4 linked regions of the Homo sapiens genome follow. The protein of the gene in region 1 interacts with the protein of each later gene in a biochemical or structural test. Each region holds a gene or a part of one and is shown in the gene's direction. Other genes may lie near its edges.

Region 1 (4,865 bases):
TGGTATCAAAAATCTGCCCCCTGATGATTTCTCGAAACCACTGTGTTTTGAAGCAGAATCCTGAGGGCCAATGGACAATTATGGACAACAAGGTACAGGAATTCACAGAAGCCTAATGACTTTTATTTGTTTTTAAATTACTTTTTTTTTTTTTTGCATAGGTAATTCATGGTATAAAATTCAAAAGTATAACTTCTTCTTTCCTAGCCATCCAGTTCCCTTTTCCAGAGGCAGCCACTTCCATATGCTGCCAGAGATTCGATTATGCTAAAATAATTTCTCTTGATTTGGGTTAAAGTTTGTTAACTTGAAGAGAATACCTGAATTGGGGTAGTAGGTCCTATTCCAGAAACTAGACTAAGTTACTGGGCAAATAAGCCTGTTTGAGGTGAAGCTCCCAGAGACCCTGGGAATCTGCAGAATCTGCTGACGCTTCTGGAGTACACTTATGGCTCAGTGGACAAGGGGAGGAGGGAGAAACTGATCTGATTGCGCTTAGCTCCTTTCCTTCCTCACTCCTTTCAATCTGAGCAACCTCCCCTGGCCTTTAAAACATGTTTTAAATATTGGTGTTCCGAAGATTTCCTTTGAATAATGGGTTTTTCTCCTTTAAACAAATTTGAAAACCACTAGTTTAGTGGTAAATATATTGAGGGAGGTGCAATAGTATATGAAGCCCAGCAATTAGAAAGTACCTAATGTGCTGGGTGTGGTGGCACATGCCTGTAGTCCCAACTACTGGAGAAGCTGAGGCCAGAGGATTGTTTGAGCCCATGAATTCTGGGTTATAGTGTGCTATGCCATTCTGGTGTCTGCCTTAAGTTCGGCATCAATATGGTGTCCTCCTGGGAGCAGGGGACCACCAGTTTGTCTAAGGAGAGGTGAACTGACCCAGGTTGGAAGGAGGGCAGGTCAAAACTGCTGTGCTCATCAACAAAGGGATTGCACCTGTGAATAGCCACTGCACTCCAGTGTGGCTGACATAGTGAAGCCCTGTCGCTATCAAAAAGAAAAGAAGATACCTAAAGTGCAGATATACAAGCACCGAGGAATGTGATGAAAATACAGACTATGAGGTGAGAGAAATTCTAACATAAACAGTTAATGTTTAGGAAGTATAACATGTCTTTAAGTGCCATTTCATATTGCTTCACTGCCCCAGTTAGGATTTTAAAGGTACCATTAGAAGGGAGGGTATCCCACAGGTCTGCCTGCCATCCTCATATTGCGTGCATAAAACTGCTAGATTTAAGCTGTTGGAAAGTATCTTCCTGCTCTAGAATTAAGTTGAGTTGGCACTGTATTGAAGGAGACAGTACATAAATGCTAAGTAAATCAGTTCAGCACTTTTAGCAAGGCACCATGAGCAGGATAAAAATTGGCACTGAGATTATCTACTTTAACCCCTTATGTAGACAGATGAATCTGAGGCCCAGAGAGATAAACTGTCTTGCCCAAAGCCTTCTCTATAATGAGCCAGGACTTAAGTTTCTCTGCTATGCCCTGTGTCAAGTATCAGTAAAGTATGTAAGCAATTTGCTATACTGGCTTTATGACGTCAAACAATTAATTATGCATATTTAAAATATAGCTGCAAGGTTTTAAAGCCTCTGTAATAGCGTATATCAAAACAGCTTAGGAAAAGATGTTTTCCTCATCAGAGTAGGCTGTATGAGAGTTAGGATTACAATATTATAGAGGTGAGTTCTCTGCTGCTGCTTTTCTTAATTATGTGCAGTGTAGATGTGATCCACTTATGGGATTAGCAGATTTTCATAGGTTGGGAAGCCAACAGCTGATCAACTTCAGTGTTATTTGAATTTCAACCACAGGGATACAGAGGCAGCCTGTGCAAGATCAGATCATGACTGTGCTCCGGGCTCACTCTCCAGTGTTTGCTTTGTACCCTTCCTTCTAGGGTTGCTGTTATCATATGATTCTTCTCAGGTCTCAGTCAGGCAATAGAGAGGAAAGATAGGTTTCTTAACAACCTGTTTAAACTTTTTAGCTGTGATTGTTTGTGAGATAACTGATTTAATTTTAAGAGAAGCTAGGACTGGGGTGTTTTGATGGAACAATTCTTACAAGTAAATCCCCCCTGCCCCCTGCACTTTTCTTTTGACTACAGATGCCCCCTTTCTGGCTTCCTCCTGGCATGATGCCATGGCAGCCCTCTTCTGCTGATAAGAGACCTGAATTTCAGCTGTAGGGTATTATTGCTGTGGTTGTGTTTGAAGTCATTTGCCAAATCTTTTTCAAGAGATAGGTGTTTCTAACAAGTTAAAAACTCAGAGCTGCATTCTCTTATCTGCTGGAATGGCCAGAAAGTGAGAGCTTAAGTATAGATACAAAAATTGCAAGAAATGTTATTTTGGTTTAAAATTGGCTTAAAATATAGAAAAAAACCTTGGAGGACAGCTAAGTCTGCACACAGTATGAGGATGGTTCTAGTTGTGTAGGTTTTGGTCAATTCATAAGCTTTTCAGATGGCCCGTCCTTTGTATTGGTATCCAGCTCTTTCAGAAAATTGGTTGTTTTAAAGTCACAGTATGAAATGCCTTAGAGGTTCAGTCACGTCTTACTTGAGCCTTTCCCATTCTTACCCTCCTCTCCTGTTGCTTTTCACCTGCTGCCTGGTGATTCCTACCTTTGTTCTTCTGCAGACTCTGGCATTTGAAGTCCCTGTTGAGTGTACTCTTACGTGAACAAAGTTTGCTGTTTGGGACAGTTCAGCTTCTGGTCCTCCAGCAACTAGAGCAGTGGTTATCAACCCTGTTTCCAGTTTTTACTCTCACCTGGGGCACTTTTTAAAAATACTGATGGTAGTACAATAAAAGCGTTCATTCGTCAAAAAACACCATTAAGAGAGTAAAAGGCAAACTCAGAGGAAGATGTTTGCTACACATTATAGTCAATGAAGGGTTTATACTGAGGTATCTGCAGAACTCCAATAAGAAAAAGACAGATATGCCCTATTTAAAAATGAGCAAGAGACAAGCACTTCACAAAAGGTTCTATCCAATGAAAAGTTGTTCAACCTCATTAATAATCTGGGGAATTTAAATTAAAACCATAATGGAATACCTCTACACATTCACCAGAGTGGCTAAAATTGAAGACTAGTGATGCCAGGTATTGGTAAGGATATGGAGTGATAGAATGTTCTTACCCTTCTGTTGGGAGTGTAAATTGGTACAATTTGGGAAATTATTTGGCATTATTCATTAAAGTTGAACATACATATAGCTCTTGACACAGTATTTTCACTCCCCGGGAAACAGCCCAAATGTCCATCAACAGTAGAATGGATAAATTGTGGAATAATCTTATATTGAAACACTATACTATAGTGAATATGAATGAACTACTATATCTAATAACATGGATAAACCTCACATAATATTGAGTGAAAGAAGGCTGGGCGCTGTGGCTCACGCCTGTAATCCCAGCACTTTGGGAGGCCGAGGCGGGCGGATCACGAGGTCAGGAGATCGAGACCATCCTGGCTAACATGGTGAAACCCCGTCTCTACTAAAAATATAAAAAATTAGCCAGGCGTGGTGGCGGGTGCCTGTGGTCCCAGCTGCTCTGGAAGCTGAGGCAGGAGAATGGCATGAACCTGGGAGGCGGAGCTTGCAGTGAGCCGAGATCAGGCCATTGCACTCCAGCCTGGGGGACAGAGCGAGACTCTGTCTCAAAAAAAAAAAAAAAAAAAAATTGAGTGAAAGAAGACAGACACAAAAGAATACATATTATATGATGCCATTTATACAATGTTTAAAACCAGGCAAAATTTACATGTGCTGTTAAATCTGGATAGTAGTCACTTTATTGCCAAGGTGGCTACTGACTAGAAGGAGACACACAGGGGTTTCTGGGATGCTGATAATGTGGGGTTTGTTTTGTTTTTGACCTTATGGTAGTTACACTAAGATGTTCATTTTGTGACTGTTCATCGAGTTGGTACATTTATGATTTGTGCACGTTTATGTTTGCATGTTCCGCTTTAGTAAAGACTTTAAAAAATATATTGACGGATACATACTTAATACAATTGCTGAAATAAGACTTGATGATACCAAGTGCTGGCAAGCATGCAGAATAACTGGAACTCCTCAACATTCAAGTGTGAATATAAAATGGTACCTCCACTTTGAAAAACTGGTGGTTTCTAAGAGTCAAATATATACTTGTCCAGTGATCCTATTTCTAGGTATTTACCCAAGATTAATGAAAGCTTATGTTCTCGCAGAAACTTGTATGTGAATGTTTCTAGTGGCTTTATTTTTTTTGTTTTTATATTTTGAGATGGAGTTTCGCTCTTTTTGCCCAGGCTGGAGTGCAATGGCGTGAACCCGGCTCCCCAAACCTCTGCCTCCCGGGTTCAAGTGATTTTCCTGCCTCAGCCTCCCGAGTAGCTGGGATTACAGGCATGCGGCACCACGCCTGGCTAATTTTTGTCTTTTTAGTAGAGGTGGGTTTCACCATGTTGGCCAGGCTGGTCTTGAACTCCTAACCTCAGCTGATCCACCTGCCTCGGCTTCCCAAAGTGTTAGGATTACAGGCGTGAGCCACCACACCTGGCCTGTAGTGGCTTTATTAATATTCACCAAAAACTGGGAAAAAAAACAACTAGGGAATGGATAAACTGTGCTCCACCCCTACTACCTTCAATATTACTCAGCAATAAAATATAACAAACTGCCGATAATGCAACAGTGTGGACGAATCTCAGAGGCGTTACACTAAGTGAAAGAAGCAAGACTCAAAAGTGTAGATAATAAGATTCCATTTGTATTACATTCTGGGAAAGAGAAGAGAACAGATAAGTAGTTGCCTGGGAATGCGGGAAAGGTTGACTACCA
Region 2 (4,865 bases), on another chromosome or scaffold:
TGCCGTTTACATAACACTTTTATTAAACAGTTTTAGTAGTTATAAAACTGATTTGCACTTAATTATTTTCGTAGTTATAAAACTGATTTGCACTTAATTATTTTCAGTTGAAGTGTTTTACAAATGATATGGTCATGTTTCACAATTACATGTAAGCAGCATACAGTGGTGATCTAGCTATCACAGGGCAAAGGTAGGATGCACTAATATTACGTTTTAAAAATAAAATTTAAGAAGGAAAAGGTTTCTAAATTACAGCTAATTGTAACTAGTAATATAACTAAAATAGTAAATTGTAACTACTATAATTATACTAATATAGTTCTATGAACTGGGCATGTTATTTATATAAATGCCTTAGTTTATGTTTTAAAACTGTGTTATAGGCCGGGTATGTTGGCTTACACCTGTAATCCTAGCACTTTGGGAGGCCAAGGCAGGCGGATGACTTGAGGTCAGGAGTTCAAGACCAGCCTGGCCAACATGGCAAAACCCTGTCTCTACTAAAAATACAAAAATTAGCTGGGTGTGGTGGCGGGCACCTCTAATCCCAGCTACTTGGGAGGCTGAGGCAGGACAATCGCTTGAACCCGGGAGGTGGAGGTTGCAGTGAGCAAAGATCACGCCACTGCACTCCAGCCTGGGCAACAGAGCGAAACTCTATCTCAAAAAAAAAAAAAAAGAAAAAAAAACTGTTATAGAATAATATTTATTTTCTTTGTATTAGTACTCTCATGCTTTTTGGTGTTTGAATATTATAAATGTACAAAATCCTTAAAATAACTGGAATCTAACAAAAGTTTTCTTTGAAATTTTTTAGAAGTCAGAGTCAGTTTCTCCCCATGAACATTCCTGTAGTTGTATCAAAAGTAAATTCAGTCCCTAAAACATTTGTTAAATAACAGGACTCTTTATAAGAAGCAGAATGTCATGGTTTTGCTGTTGATGTTTATTTCTCTGTGCCCAAAATGACAAATTCTAAAATGATGATCTCTGTTGATTAATCTCATGTGCCCAAGAAAAAAATCAAGTGTATGTTAACCAATAGCCTGGGCTATTTTGTCTGATAAAATAGGCAATTTTATTAGACAAAAATTGTCTATAGATACTGTTAATAAACACTTTGTCTAACAAAATATAACTTTACATTTTCTTGTAGGTTACCTTCCGAACAAGAATCTATCACTGTAATATTAACAGCCAAGGTGTGATCTGTCTGGACATCTTAAAGGACAACTGGAGTCCGGCTTTAACTATTTCTAAAGTTCTCCTCTCCATCTGCTCACTTCTTACAGATTGCAACCCTGGTAAGAGACTTTAAATCTAGTATGAATTGGAGCTTGTCAAGATTTAAATGTCAGACCCTTAGTAACTTGTTTACTACTGCTACTACCACTACCACCACTGCTTCTACTACTATTATTGTTAAATTTTCATAGTATGTAACTATTTTCTTTTTAAATTGGGTCTTCTCATTAGTGTTTTTAAGACCTATCATTTGCCAAAAAGGAAAAAGTATAGTGTGGTAAAAAAAATAATGAAAAATCATTTTAGATGGGAAAGTACGTTTAAAGAATGAATTAAGTTATCCTGCCAAATAATAATAAAAATTCAAGTTGAATAGCTTAATCTTTAATTAGATGCCTACTAGAAGATGTTAATTTGAGGAATGTGGGCTATTAAAATCTGATAACAACCAGGCAGCACCATGCAGACGTGACCTTTTTGGCATCCTAGTAACTGTGCATCCTGACAAGCTATTATAACGGTCCTGAATGGTCTGTTCTAGGAAATACCCCAAAAGTAAACAAGGAAATACACCTCCCAAGAAAACGAAAAAGTCTATAGCCAGGCCTTTATGGCTTGCTGGTGTGCTTACCACTGAAAATTCTTAATTCCTGGGCCATGTCTTTACAAATTGGGTTTATTTTAGAAAATACAAAAATCCAAAGATAGCTATAGGGTTTTCATTGATGTTCTCAGTGGGAGAATTATTTTATGAGTAATTAATAGCTTAAATATTGCATGAGATTCCCTCTTCTACAATCATGAGTAAACTCTGTTCACTGGATACATGAAATTTTACACAAATGGAAATGACGAGTATCAGTGGGGTTGCTTAGGATCCTGGCTGTTTTATAAAACATCAAGAAATAACAGTCTTTCTACTTTTATATTTCTTTATTTTTCAGCAGTAAAATCTTTTTTAAAGTAGCAAATTAGTATTTTTTTTTTTTTTTTTTTTTTGAAACTGAGTCTCACTGTGTCACCCAGGCTGGAGTGCAGTGGCACGATCTTGGCTCCCGCAACCTCCGCCTCCTGGATTCAAGCGATTCTCCTATCTTAGCCCCCCAAGTAGCTGGGATTACAGCCGTGTGCCGCCAAGCCCAGCTTATTTTTGTACTTTTAGTAGAGACGGGGTTTCACCGTGTTGGCCAGCCAGGTCTCGAACTCCTGACCTTGTGATCCGCCCGCTTTGGCCCCCCAAAGTGCTGGGATTACAGGCATGAGCCACTGTACCCAGCCTGCCCAAAAAATAAAATTGTGCAGGATCATTATAAAATATTTTTTGAATTAATTCATACTTTACTACAGACAGTAAAGTCCAATAATGTTATACTAATTTAAAGTTAATTTTGTTCTTTCAGTCCTGTTGTTCCCATTTTAATCCCATTTGTCTGTGACTGTGTATAACCTTGTATAACCTCATTTGGAGGTAATGTTGCAAGAAGGCTTTTTTTTTTTTTTTTTTTTTGAGGTGATTTCGAAGCCTGGCCTGCTTTGCCTCCAAGTCAGCTGAAATGGAATCTGTTACCCTGAATAAGCCTGTATATGACAGCCTGTTCTCTCTACAGATATTCCTGCTTAAAGGAATAGATTCATTCCACCAAAGCCTTCTCTCAGCAATCAAAAAGACTTCTGTTCAGTGAACTAGTTTTTTTTTTTTGCTCCGTTTCAGAAAATTACAAATGCATTCTGCAAAAACTTAAAAATCACTCCTAACTAAAGCAGAACCACATAAGTAAAAGAAATAGATTTTGAAATAATGCTATTGATAGTAAGAACAAGCCTAAAAATAATGTTCCATAAAACCAAAGACAGCCTGCCTCATATGAGACTAGAAGAGAATTTGTAAAATACATGCTAACATTTAGTTTATCACACTTTTTAACACATAAAAATAAAGTTTCCTAATTGGTTTTTATGAATGTTGACACTTCTAGAATCTTAAATAGAGTTGTTTATTTTAAAGTAGTCAAATGTCCATTCTTTTGCTTAATGGACTTATTTCACACTGTTATCTGGTACACTTTCAATCTCTGTAGGTTTTTTTACCTACAGAGGTAGGAAAGATTAGGTTAGATTGAAGTTTATCTTAAATCTATCTTCAAATTATCACAAAAACAAGTTTGATAGAATAGGAATAAATAAGATTTTCCTACACTGAATCTGTAGAGCTATTTTAACCCGGAAATGCTGTCACCTCAAAAATAGGCCTTGTATAATGATACAAATTTAACTCACTTAAAAAATACTTTCTCACTCTTATCCATACATAAACTTATTTTCTAAATCTTTTTCATACTCTTTTTGTAATTTGCACTTGTCTCTTTAAAGAATTTTTGGTCCATTCCAACACAGATGTTCTTTAGGGTATGACTACCCATCCTTATCAGCATGATATTTGTAGACAGCAGATGTAGATTTGAAAACCAGTTTAATTGTTTATTAGTCATATCACATTGGATGGGTCACTTAACTTTCCACAGGCTTAGTTTTTGATATAAAATTGGGATTAGTACCAGCCCTGCCTAAATCACTGGATTCCTCTGAGGTTAAAATGAGATGGTATATGTGAAAGCCATTTATAAATGGTAATGTGTTGTTGATATTGTTACCCAGAGTATTTGGGACACCAAATGGGCCCACAATAGGTGACCGATAAACACCTACTCAGTTGAATTTAACTGGGGAGATAGTATCGAATAGTATCTAACGCCGTCACCTCAACATTGACACTTGGATTTTACAATCGAAAAAAGCTGAACCTTGACTTAGTAGGATTATCACTCAGGTGGCAGATGTCCAAACGTTATCAGCCAGTCGATGGGTGCACCAGCAATAATCATTCTGTTTTCAATGCAATTGTCTAGGTAGATCTAACTGCTGGTCTTATTAGGCCACCACTTCATGATGGTGTTTATTGAGCCTGATAGAGCATTCTTTTTTTTTTTTTTTTTTTTTTTGAGATGGAGTCTCGCTCTGTCGCCCAGGCTGGATTGCAATGGCACGATCTCAGCTCACTGCATCCTCTCCTCCCGGGTTCAAGCGATTCTCCTGCCTCAGCCTCCCGAGTAGCTGGGTCTACAGGCCCCACCACCATGCCTGGCTAATTTTTTGTATTTTTAGTAGAGACAAGGCTTCACCGTGTTAGCCAGGATGGTCTCAATCTCCTGACCTCGTGATCCGCCCGCCTCGGCCTCCCAAAGTGCTGGGATGACAGGCGTGAGCCACCCAACCAGCCAAGCATTCTTATTTGTTAGACGTTACCTGGCTTTTTCTGAGTTTAGTCTTGCTTACTAAACATTATTTAATTTGTGAATTGCCAAAGTTGAGAATACCATTGGGGAATCAAATTTCTGTGCTTTCTTATTTGTAAGTACTTTCTTCTGGAGTCATTATTTAACACATAAAATTTAAGTTCTATTTGGTTTCATCTTTTGAAGTTTGTTTTTGCTATTTTGTGGACTTTTTAAAAACTCTTAGATGTTTGGTAATATTCTTTATATGAAATCTGTTTCTTTAACAATTATTTAAAATGTGCTTATATTATGGCCTTCAGACCTATTTAAAAAATGGGTATT
Region 3 (4,865 bases), on another chromosome or scaffold:
TTCCTCCTTTCCTTTTGTTTTTGTGCTCGTCTTATTAACAAATCTGTGTCGGGGCGGTTTGCAGGGAAGTCCCTCCCCCGATGTCACCAAAATTGTCAAGTCATCCAGCCAGACCTGGGTCGGAGTCCCGGGCCCCACAGGCACTGTGACTTCCCAGTCCTGGCTGGCTGTAGTCCTCAGTTTCCCCATCTGTCACATCCCCTTTCCCTCTCAGGTTTGGCGATTCCTGGCCTCTTAGTGGGTCCCTGGGTCATGGTTTGCACACACGTTTGGGGGTGTGCCTCAGTTCCTCCCATCGGGTCCCGTGCCCTGGGCCTTGTGGAGGTGGGAGGTGCTGTCTGGGGTGAAGATCTGTTGGTCTGTCCCTGTCCCCCCGCTCTGCAGGACACCCTTCCTCTGTCCTCTGCTGTGCTGCTCCTGAGGCCCAACACCTGTGTGGCTGGTGTGTCTTACTTCCTCCCCGCCAGCCCCTGGTGGGGTCCCCAAACAGGACCCACACCACTGTCTCACCGTCAGGGATGTCCTGAGTGGCCACCTTGGTGCTGCAGTTTCATTTCATCATCTCTCTTGTGTATGTCTTCTCAGCCTTAACGGTCCTGTTGAGAAATCAGAGCCTCTGCCAGGCGCCGTGCTCCTGGAGGGTGTCCTCCTTGGGCTGCGAGGCTGAGTGTGGTGTATGGGCTGGTGTGAGGTCCTTGTGCCTGCATAGCAGAGCTGCCTTCCAGAGCTGGTGTGGCCATGCCCAGTGCTGCCAGTCAGGCCTTTCTGATGGGGATTCGTGTTTCATGGAGTGCTGACGTTTGCTCAGGCCCACCCTGTGCTGTGCAGGTTGGGAAACCGAGGGCAGACGGTTCAAGCCTTGCGCAGGGTCACATGCTGGGCCCTGGCCCCCATCCAGACCTTGTTGCTTTCACCAGAGGGCAGAGGAGCATGTGCCCAGCCTGGAGAGGTGTGTGCCCAGCCTGGAGAGGTGTGTACCCAGCCTGGAGAGGTGTGGACCCAGTCTGGTTCTTCCGGGTGCCTGGTGTGGGCAGGGAGGCTTGCTGTGGTGGCAGGTGCAGCCTTGTCCCTGGAAGATGGAAACTGGGACAGGGGCAGGCATAGTAGGCAGTGGCCGGGGCCCCTGTGCCCAGGCGTGGAGACTGGCCTGTTCTGGGGTGGAGGCCCGAGGCGTGGCTGGAGCTGGGGGGGGAAGGCCTCGTGTGCAGCCTTAGCCTGGCAGTCTCTGTGAGGATGCCACAGCACAGAGAGCTTGGTTTAGCCGAGACCACTCTCAGATCCTGGGGGCTTCAGGGAGACCCCTGCGAGCTTGGGGGCAGATGAGAGCGCTGTGCATGGCTGATGCCTGGCCTGGGCCTGCAGCAGTAAGCTCGCTGTCCTTTGAAAGTGATCATCAGATAACCAGGGGGGGCCCAGGGGGCAGCCAGTGCAGGCTTAGGGGAAGCTCAGGCACTGTGGGAGCCCAGAGGAGGCACCTGACCCTGCCTCGGGCACCCGGTGAGACGCAGGCAGGCAGGAGGGCTGTTGACGCCTGAGGAATGAAAAGGTGTCGGCACCACAGGCCTGGCTGCAGGGAGCAGTGTCCGTGAAGTCTGAGGCTGTCATCACACCTGGCCCTCGGAAGTCGGTGATGGCCTTTCTGAGCCCCGTCCCGGACCCTCCAGGCTGCACTGACTCCTTCCTAAGGCCCTGCAGCCCAGTCATCCATGTGCCTGGGATCATCAGACTCCAGCTGCCTGGGCCCCCCAAAGCCTGGGGACGACACCCCATCCCATCCCAGTGGAACCGTGCAGTGTTGGGGCTGGGGGGACCTGGAATCACCTGGTCAGACCGCTCCCCTGGTGCCCATCGGTGACTGGGTCCTGTTAGGAGCAGCTCATGTGGGGGACCACCCTGGACACCCCCTTCCTGATCCCCACACATGGTCTCACTCGCCCCATACCTGTGAGACAGAGAAATGGGGTATAGAGAGGTGAGCCGTGGGGAGGTCTAAGGGCCAGCACCAGGCGTGGCCCCCATTTCTTGCCGGTCCTTCCTGCTTCCAGTCCTTCCTCTTGGCAGCGCATAAGCCCTGGAGACCAGACTTAGGGCCGTGAGAGAAACTGCTGCTGCTGTCAAGGGACCTCCTCCCCTTTGCCTCCAGCAGGATTCTGAGGCGTGAACTTGCAGTCAGAATGCTGCCGAGCGCTCTCGCCCCAAACACAGCTGCAGAACTCAGCCTCGGTGTGGAGGGCACCTCTGCGTGGGCGGTGAGGAGGCAGTGAGGCCCCCGTGCCAAACGTGCCCTGCTGCCAGTGCCTCTCCTTGTGCACAGGGGGAGTCTCTTGCCTCCCCCAGCCTGGCTGTGTGGGCTGCACAGCCAGGCCTGTGGAGCTCCTTACTCTTGGGCAGTAACGGGGCCCCTGGTGCAGCCCAGGCACTCGCCCTGCAGGGACCCCACGTGGAAACGGTGGCTGGGAGGGCTTGGCAGGCACCCTCCTCCCCGGCCTGCGTCTGGGTGCTGGGCAAGACCCCTTGGCTCCAGATGGGTCCTGAAGTGCAGAGCACTCCCCTCTCTCCTCTTGGGCAAACCACTGCAAGGCAGGCTCCCCGACAGCGGAGGGCAGGGCTGTTGGCTGCATGGGTGAGGCATTGCAGCAGCCCTGGAGAAAGCTATGGGGCCAAGTTGGCCAACACTAGGTGCCTGTGGCCCAGAGCATGCAGGATGGGAGCTGTCGGCTCTGGGGACTGAGCCCTCCTAAGTGTCAGGCCCCCTGGTGGGCAGCTCCGCCCACTGGCCTTGGTGTCAAGTGGTCCCTCGGCCCGGTTTGTGATCAGACCCCTAGAAACAGGCTGGAGCTGAGGCGTCGCATCCCAGTGCAGTGCTGCGAGGGAGTCGCCTGGGGTTGGTCCCAGGGCTGGCTGAAGGCAGGATGGCCCAGGTGCCCCCATGCGGTGACTCTGCCCCCGGCAAAGGCCCACTCTGGCTCTGGGGCAGATGGGTTCCCACCCCTATGCGGTAGGATACCACAGGCTGATAGCATCTCAGGTTGGGCAATGGGGCCTGCACGCGCAGGCAGCCACCAGGAGGGACTCGTTCCGCAGCATTCCCGGGACCAGGGGTGGGCAGAGGTGGGGGGACGTGCAGTGGTGGGTGTTGGCCCTCTGCCAAGCTGAGCCTGGGCCTGTTTGCTGAAGCCGGGGAGGGGGCAGGGGTTGGGGGTCCCGCAGGGACACGTGCTCTGATGGGGAAGACAGGCCTCACCCTTGGGGGTTCCCAGTCCGATGGAAAAGACCTAGCTTCCACCCAGGGTCGTCGGGGGAGACATTGGTCTAGAGGGGGCAGTGGCTGTCCCCCATTCTGCTTCCTCCTCCTCCCTCAGGAAGGCTGCTTCCCATTTCCTTCCTGCCTGCCTTTGCTTCCTGTGCCCACCCTCCAGCTCTGAAGGACTGGGTGTGGAAACAGCAGGGTCTGGCGTGTGTGCACCTATGTGTGCACGTGTGTGCATGTGCGTGCACTGCAGGGATGTGGCTGACCCACAGGTCTCTGCTGTGGGAAGGGAGCCCCGGCTGGGCTCGAGTGTGGCCCTCTTGCCTTCTGGCCTGTGAACTGGGCAAGTGACCTTGCCTCGCCCAGTCCTCAGGTTCCTCATCTGTGATGGGCTGGGGGCATCAGGAAGACCCCTGCGAGCTTGGGGGTGGATGAGAGTGCTGTGCGTGGCTGGTGGTGGGGTTGGAGAGCAGTGGTCACGTGTGGGTGTGGGTGTGGTATGTCTGTGTGGTGTATGGGTGTGCGTGTGGTGTGTGTGTGATATGTCTGTGGTGTGGTATGTGTGGTGTGGTATGTCTCTGTGTGTCTGTGTGTGTATGTCTGCATGGTTTGTGTGCACGTGTGTGTGCATGGTTCTCGTGTTCTGATGCCTTGCTCTAGGTTGAAGCCCTGGAGGGAAGGTAAGTCACTCCCTTTAGAGACTCTAGCTTGCTGTGTGGCCTCTGGCGCTGCTCTCTGGGTCTCTGTCTCCCCACCCTTAAGAGGAGGCCAGAATGGTTTGGTGGAGTTCGGTCCTGCCTGTCTTGGGCCCAGCCCTGGGCTGCACAAGGGACGGAGGAAGGACTCAGCCATTGCCACTACCCAAGCCAGAGGAGCCAGTGGGCCTGGGGATGCCCCTCGGCTCCGACATGCCTGCCTCGGAGCTGTCTGCCCTTCCCCAGACCCCCTCCCTCCTGCTTGACCCTGAGGGGCTGTGGCAGGTCGGAGATGTCCTTTGCTTCTGAGGGGCTGCTGCACCCTGAGTCCTAGGCCAGCTTGTCTCTGGGGGCCTGGGACCCCAGTGATGCTGGGGAGGGTCCGCCTGGGCAGGAGTCTCAGGTCTTCCTGGGAGGACTGGGCTGCGGTGTGTGAGTCTCCTCTGCCTCTGAGCAGCCTCCCCCGTGCCTCCACTCTGCCTCCTCCAGCCGCCACGCTCTGGTCTGGAGGGTAAAGAGGCTCTGTGTTTACAGACACCTCCCGCCCGGCCTCCGGCGCCAGCGGAACATGAGTCAAGCATGACTTCGTCTAGAAGGTGATTGTGCTGGCAAAGCATAAATCCCGGCCCCTCCTGCCCCCCAGCCTATAAATAAAGCGATCATATTTATAATGATGCTGGGCAGAGCTGCCAGGCCCTTCACAGCTTCAAAGTGCTTCACAAAACACTCGCTAATTAATTCTCGGCTGCCCTGGCGGAGGAGGCAGGTGCCAAGGAGCCCAGCTCCAGGCACCTGGGGAGAACTGGCAGCAAGGCCCCTCGCTCAGGGCCACCCTTGTCTGGGGCTCCCCATGCCCTGGGGCTACCTCTGAGCAGGAGAAAATCCCTGGCACCGGGCCGGGCTGGCGCGTGGGGTGGGAG
Region 4 (4,865 bases), on another chromosome or scaffold:
CTTACTGTATTTCAACCACACTCAGTTTGGGCGAGAGGAGAAGTACTCTCTACAGTGGGGTTCAGATGGGCCTAGACTAGGGCTCCGGGTTCAGAAAGCTTCCACTTCCACCCACCACCTAGGGGGATTCCGGCTTAAGTCCTGGGCCCCTCCAGCAACCCCATTCAACTCCATGTAGAATAGAGTGAGGAGACACAGGAGAGAAATCGTGGAATGAGGTAGAGACCCAGAACACTGGGCCTGCTGTTTGCCTAGGAAGGCATAGCGCATAGCCCCTAGACAGAGAAACCAGGTGTGTGGATTTGAGCTGTGTCACTGTCTAGCTGTGTGGCCTCAGACACGTGGTTGTGCCTCTTTAAGCCTCAGTTTCCTCATCTACAAAATGGGGCAGTCTCCACCTAGCAGATCTCTCACGAGCTCTGATGTAACTGCTTTGCAGATGAGCACCAAGGAACCACGTTTGTGGAGTGAGGGAACGTTCTAGAGCTGGCCTGTAGTGACGGTTGCACAGCTGTATACACTTCATAAAACCCATCAGCCTGTACATGTAAAGTGAGTGAATTTTATGACATGGCTCAGTACAGCTGTTAAAGACTGGGGTAAGCCCCAGCTCCCCGGAGACCTGCTGTGCACAGTGGCATCCATTGCTATTATGAACCAACACCCTCTCTTATCACCTGACAGATTGACCTCATCGATGGCAAAGGCAGGGGTGTGATTGCCACCAAGCAGTTCTCCCGGGGTGACTTTGTGGTGGAATACCACGGGGACCTCATCGAGATCACCGACGCCAAGAAACGGGAGGCTCTGTACGCACAGGACCCTTCCACGGGCTGCTACATGTACTATTTTCAGTATCTGAGCAAAACCTACTGGTGAGTCCACTGTTGCTTAGAGTGGCTTTTCTGTCCTCTGGGCAGTGAGGAGAGGCCAAAGGGCCAGGAACTCCTGATTCTGTTTGGTGGCCAGTCTTTTGGTTTTGTTGTTGTTGACTTTTTTTTTTTTATTTTTTGAGATGGAGTCTTGCTCTGTTGCCCAGGCTGGAGTGCAGTGGTGTGATCTCGGCTCATTGCAACCTCCTCTCAGGCTCAAAGAATTCTCCTCCCTCAGCCTCCAGAGTAGCCCAGCTAATTTTTTTTTTCTGTATTTTTAGTAGAGGTGGAGTTTTGCCACATTGGCCAAGCTGGTCTTGAACTCCTGACCTCAGACGATCCACCCGCCTTGGCCTTCCAAAGTGCTAGGATTACAGGTGTGAGCCACTGCGCTCGGGCTGTTGTTGCCTTTTTTCAAAGCTGTGATGCAATTATCGCCTGCTTCCTTTTTTTTTTTTTTTTTTTTTTTTTTGAATCTCGATCTGTCGCCCAAGCTGGAGTGCAGTGGCACAATCTTGGCTCACTGCAACCTCCACCTCCCGGGTTCAAGGTATTCTGTCTCAGCCTCCCACGTAACTGGGATTACAGGTGTGCGTCACCACGCCCAGCTAATTCTTATATATTTTTTTAGTAGAGACAGGGTTTCATTATGTTGGCCAGGCTGGTCTGACCTCATATGGTCTGCCTGCCTTAGCCTCCCAAAGTTCTGGGATTACAGATGTGAGCCACTGCGCCTGGCCCCAGCTTCCCTTTTTTTTTTTCTTTTGAGACGGAGTCTCGTTCTGTCACCCAGGCTGGAGTGCAGTGGTGCAATCTTGGCTTACTGCAACCTCCACCTCCCAGGTTCAAGCGATTCTCCTGCCTCAGCCTCCTGAGTAGCTGGGACTACACACACATGCCACCATGCCTGGCTAATTTTTTGTATTTTTAGTAGAGATGGAGTTTCACTGTGTTAGCCAGGATGGTCTCAATCTCCTAACCTTGTGACCTGCCCACCTTGGCCTCCCAAAGTGCTGGGATTACAGGCATGAGCCACTGTGGCCCCAGCTTCCCATTTTTAATCTTTGGAATTGGAGCTGTCCTGGATGTTATCTCATCCAAGGGGAGAAGTGGGCTAGTCACATGAAAACCTGTTAAGCAGCTCACCTGGCTCTCCTTCAGGGCATTTGGCCAGAGCAGCTCTGGAAATCACTAATTGATCTTGCCTGGCTAGGACCAGTGGAGTTGAATTTTTTATTTTTTATTTTATTTTATTTTTTTGAGATGGAGTTTCACTCTTGTTGTCCAGGCAGGAGTGCAGTGGCACGATCTTGGCTCACTGCAACTTCCACTTCCGAAGTTTAAGCAATTCTCCTGCCTCAGCCTCCCAAGTAACTGGGATTACAGGCATGCGCCACCACGCCCAGCTAATTTTGTATTTTTAGCACAGACAGCGTTTCACCATGGTGGCCAGGCTGGTTTTGAAATCCTGACCTCAGGTAATCCACCCGCCTCAGCCTCCGAAAGTGCTGGGATTACAGGCGTGAGCCACCGCGCCTGGCGGGGTTGATTTTTTTAATCCATTTATTTTGTGAAACTCTACCATTTCCTCCTGTGCCTCCATAAAGAGCCCTTTGGGTCCTACCCCATCCCCCCACCCAGGGCCTGTGCAGGCTCTCAAAAATAGCTTTGTGGGCCAGGCGTGGTAGCTCATGCCTGTGATCCCAGCACTTTGGGTGGCCGAGGTGGATGGATCATGAAGGTCAGGAGCTCCAGACCAACATGGCAAAACCCCATCTCTACTAAAAATACAAAAAAATTAGCCTGGCATGGTGGCACACGCTTCTAATCCCAGTGACTCAGGAGGCTGAGGCAGAATTGCCTTACCCCGGGAGGCAGAGGTTGCAGTGAGCTGAGATCGTGCCACTGCACTCCAGCCTGGGCGACAGAGCGACGAGACTCCCTCTCAAAAAAAAAAAAAAAAAAAAAAAAGCTTTGCAAATTGAGCCAGACCTGGTGGCTCGTGCTTGTAATCTCAAAAACTCAGGAGGCCAAGGCCAGAGGATCACTTGAGCCCAGGGGTTGGAGACCAGCCTGAGCAATATAGGGAGATCTTGTCTCTACAGAAACAATTAAAAATTAGCCTGATGTGGTGGCATGTACCTGTGGTCAAAGCTACTCGGGAGGCTGAGGTAGGAGGATGACTTGAGCCCGGGAGGTGGAGGCTGCAGTGAGCCGTGATCGTGCCACTGCACTCCAGCCTGGGTTACGGAGCGAGACCCCCTCTAAAAAGGAAAAAGAAAATAGCTTTATGAATTGAATCTTTTCAAAACACATGGCTTTAAATCAGCATCCCACCAGAGCTGAGCACAAGTGTGACTCTCTTCAGGTTGAAAAGCCTCTTTATCCATTTAATCCTCTCTGGCCCTCCTTCCCCTCCAGCGTGGATGCAACTAGAGAGACAAATCGCCTAGGAAGACTGATCAATCACAGCAAATGTGGGAACTGCCAAACCAAACTGCACGACATCGACGGCGTACCTCACCTCATCCTCATCGCCTCCCGAGACATCGCGGCTGGGGAGGAGCTCCTGTATGACTATGGGGACCGCAGCAAGGCTTCCATTGAAGCCCACCCGTGGCTGAAGCATTAACCGGTGGGCCCCGTGCCCTCCCCGCCCCACTTTCCCTTCTTCAAAGGACAAAGTGCCCTCAAAGGGAATTGAATTTTTTTTTTACACACTTAATCTTAGCGGATTACTTCAGATGTTTTTAAAAAGTATATTAAGATGCCTTTTCACTGTAGTATTTAAATATCTGTTACAGGTTTCCAAGGTGGACTTGAACAGATGGCCTTATATTACCAAAACTTTTATATTCTAGTTGTTTTTGTACTTTTTTTGCATACAAGCCGAACGTTTGTGCTTCCCGTGCATGCAGTCAAAGACTCAGCACAGGTTTTAGAGGAAATAGTCAAACATGAACTAGGAAGCCAGGTGAGTCTCCTTTCTCCAGTGGAAGAGCCGGGACCTTCCCCCTGCACCCCCGACATCCAGGGACGGGGTGTGAGGAAGACGCTGCCTCCCAATGGCCTGGACGGGATGTTTCCAAGCTCTTGTTCCCCTAACGTCTCAACAGGCGCTCACTGAAGTGTATGAATATTTTTTAAAAAGGTTTTTGCAGTAAGCTAGTCTTCCCCTCTGCTTTCTCGAAAGCTTACTGAGCCCCGGGCCCCAAGCACGGGCCGGGCATAGATTTCCTCTTCCACAAGCTGCCGCTTTTCTGGGCACCTTGAAGCATCAGGGCGTGAAATCAAACTAGATGTGGGCAGGGAGAGGGTTGCTTACCTGCCCTGCTGGGGCAGGGTTTCCTGAAACTGGGTTAATTCTTTATAGAAATGTGAACACTGAATTTATTTTAAAAAATAATAATAAAAATTTAAAAAAATTAAAAATAAAAAAAACCACAGAAAACAACTTTACATGTATATAGGTCTTGAAGTGAGTGAAGTGGCTGCTTTTTTTTTTTTTTTTTTTTGCTTTTTTTTGCTTTTTGTAGAAGAGATTGAGAATGGTACTCTAATCAAAAATAAAGTTTTGTAGTGGGACCAGAAATTACTTACCTGACATCCACCCCCATTCCCCCTCATCCTGCTGGGGTTGAAAGTTCCAGACCTGCTGTCGAGGCCTTGTGTTTGTCAGACACCCAGTGTCCTCCTGCAAGGACGCAACTGTGAGCTGAGGTGTGAGCCTAGGAGCCCAGGACCCCTGACCCCGGCCGCTGCTGCCAGCCTCAGAAAGGCACCCAGGTGTGCAGGGGAGCACACAGGGCCCGGCAGCCCCCAGGAATCAAGGATAGGGCTAAGGTTTTCACCTTAACTGTGAAGGCAGGAGGAATAGGTGACTGCTTCCTCCCGCCCTTCACAGAACTGATTCTCACACACTGTCCCTTCAGTCCAGGGGGCCGGGGCTCAGGAGCCATGACCTGGTGTCTCCTGCCCACCCTGGTCCCAGGT

The links.
Region 2: the proteins of RNF8 (region 1) and UBE2E2 form a complex in vitro, tested with the Homo sapiens proteins (2 studies listed by BioGRID).
Region 3: the proteins of RNF8 (region 1) and RXRA form a complex in vitro, tested with the Homo sapiens proteins (one study listed by BioGRID).
Region 4: the proteins of RNF8 (region 1) and KMT5A form a complex in vitro, tested with the Homo sapiens proteins (one study listed by BioGRID).

The regions. Positions count from the first base shown.
Region 1 is NC_000006.12:37,360,483-37,365,347, forward strand, and holds part of RNF8 (E3 ubiquitin-protein ligase RNF8), read left to right. Parts: coding exon 1-92; intron 93-4,865. UniProt on the Homo sapiens protein: E3 ubiquitin-protein ligase that plays a key role in DNA damage signaling via 2 distinct roles: by mediating the 'Lys-63'-linked ubiquitination of histones H2A and H2AX and promoting the recruitment of DNA repair proteins at double-strand breaks (DSBs) sites, and by catalyzing 'Lys-48'-linked ubiquitination to remove target proteins from DNA damage sites.
Region 2 is NC_000003.12:23,531,395-23,536,259, forward strand, and holds part of UBE2E2 (ubiquitin-conjugating enzyme E2 E2), read left to right. Parts: intron 1-1,159; coding exon 1,160-1,307; intron 1,308-2,758; coding exon of another isoform or gene 2,759-2,820; exon of another isoform or gene 2,821-4,865.
Region 3 is NC_000009.12:134,409,523-134,414,387, forward strand, and holds part of RXRA (retinoic acid receptor RXR-alpha), read left to right. Parts: intron 1-4,865. UniProt on the Homo sapiens protein: Receptor for retinoic acid that acts as a transcription factor.
Region 4 is NC_000012.12:123,404,200-123,409,064, forward strand, and holds part of KMT5A (N-lysine methyltransferase KMT5A), read left to right. Parts: intron 1-439; exon of another isoform or gene 440-552; intron 553-684; coding exon 685-875; intron 876-3,293; coding exon 3,294-3,504; 3' UTR 3,505-4,865. UniProt on the Homo sapiens protein: Protein-lysine N-methyltransferase that monomethylates both histones and non-histone proteins. Specifically monomethylates 'Lys-20' of histone H4 (H4K20me1).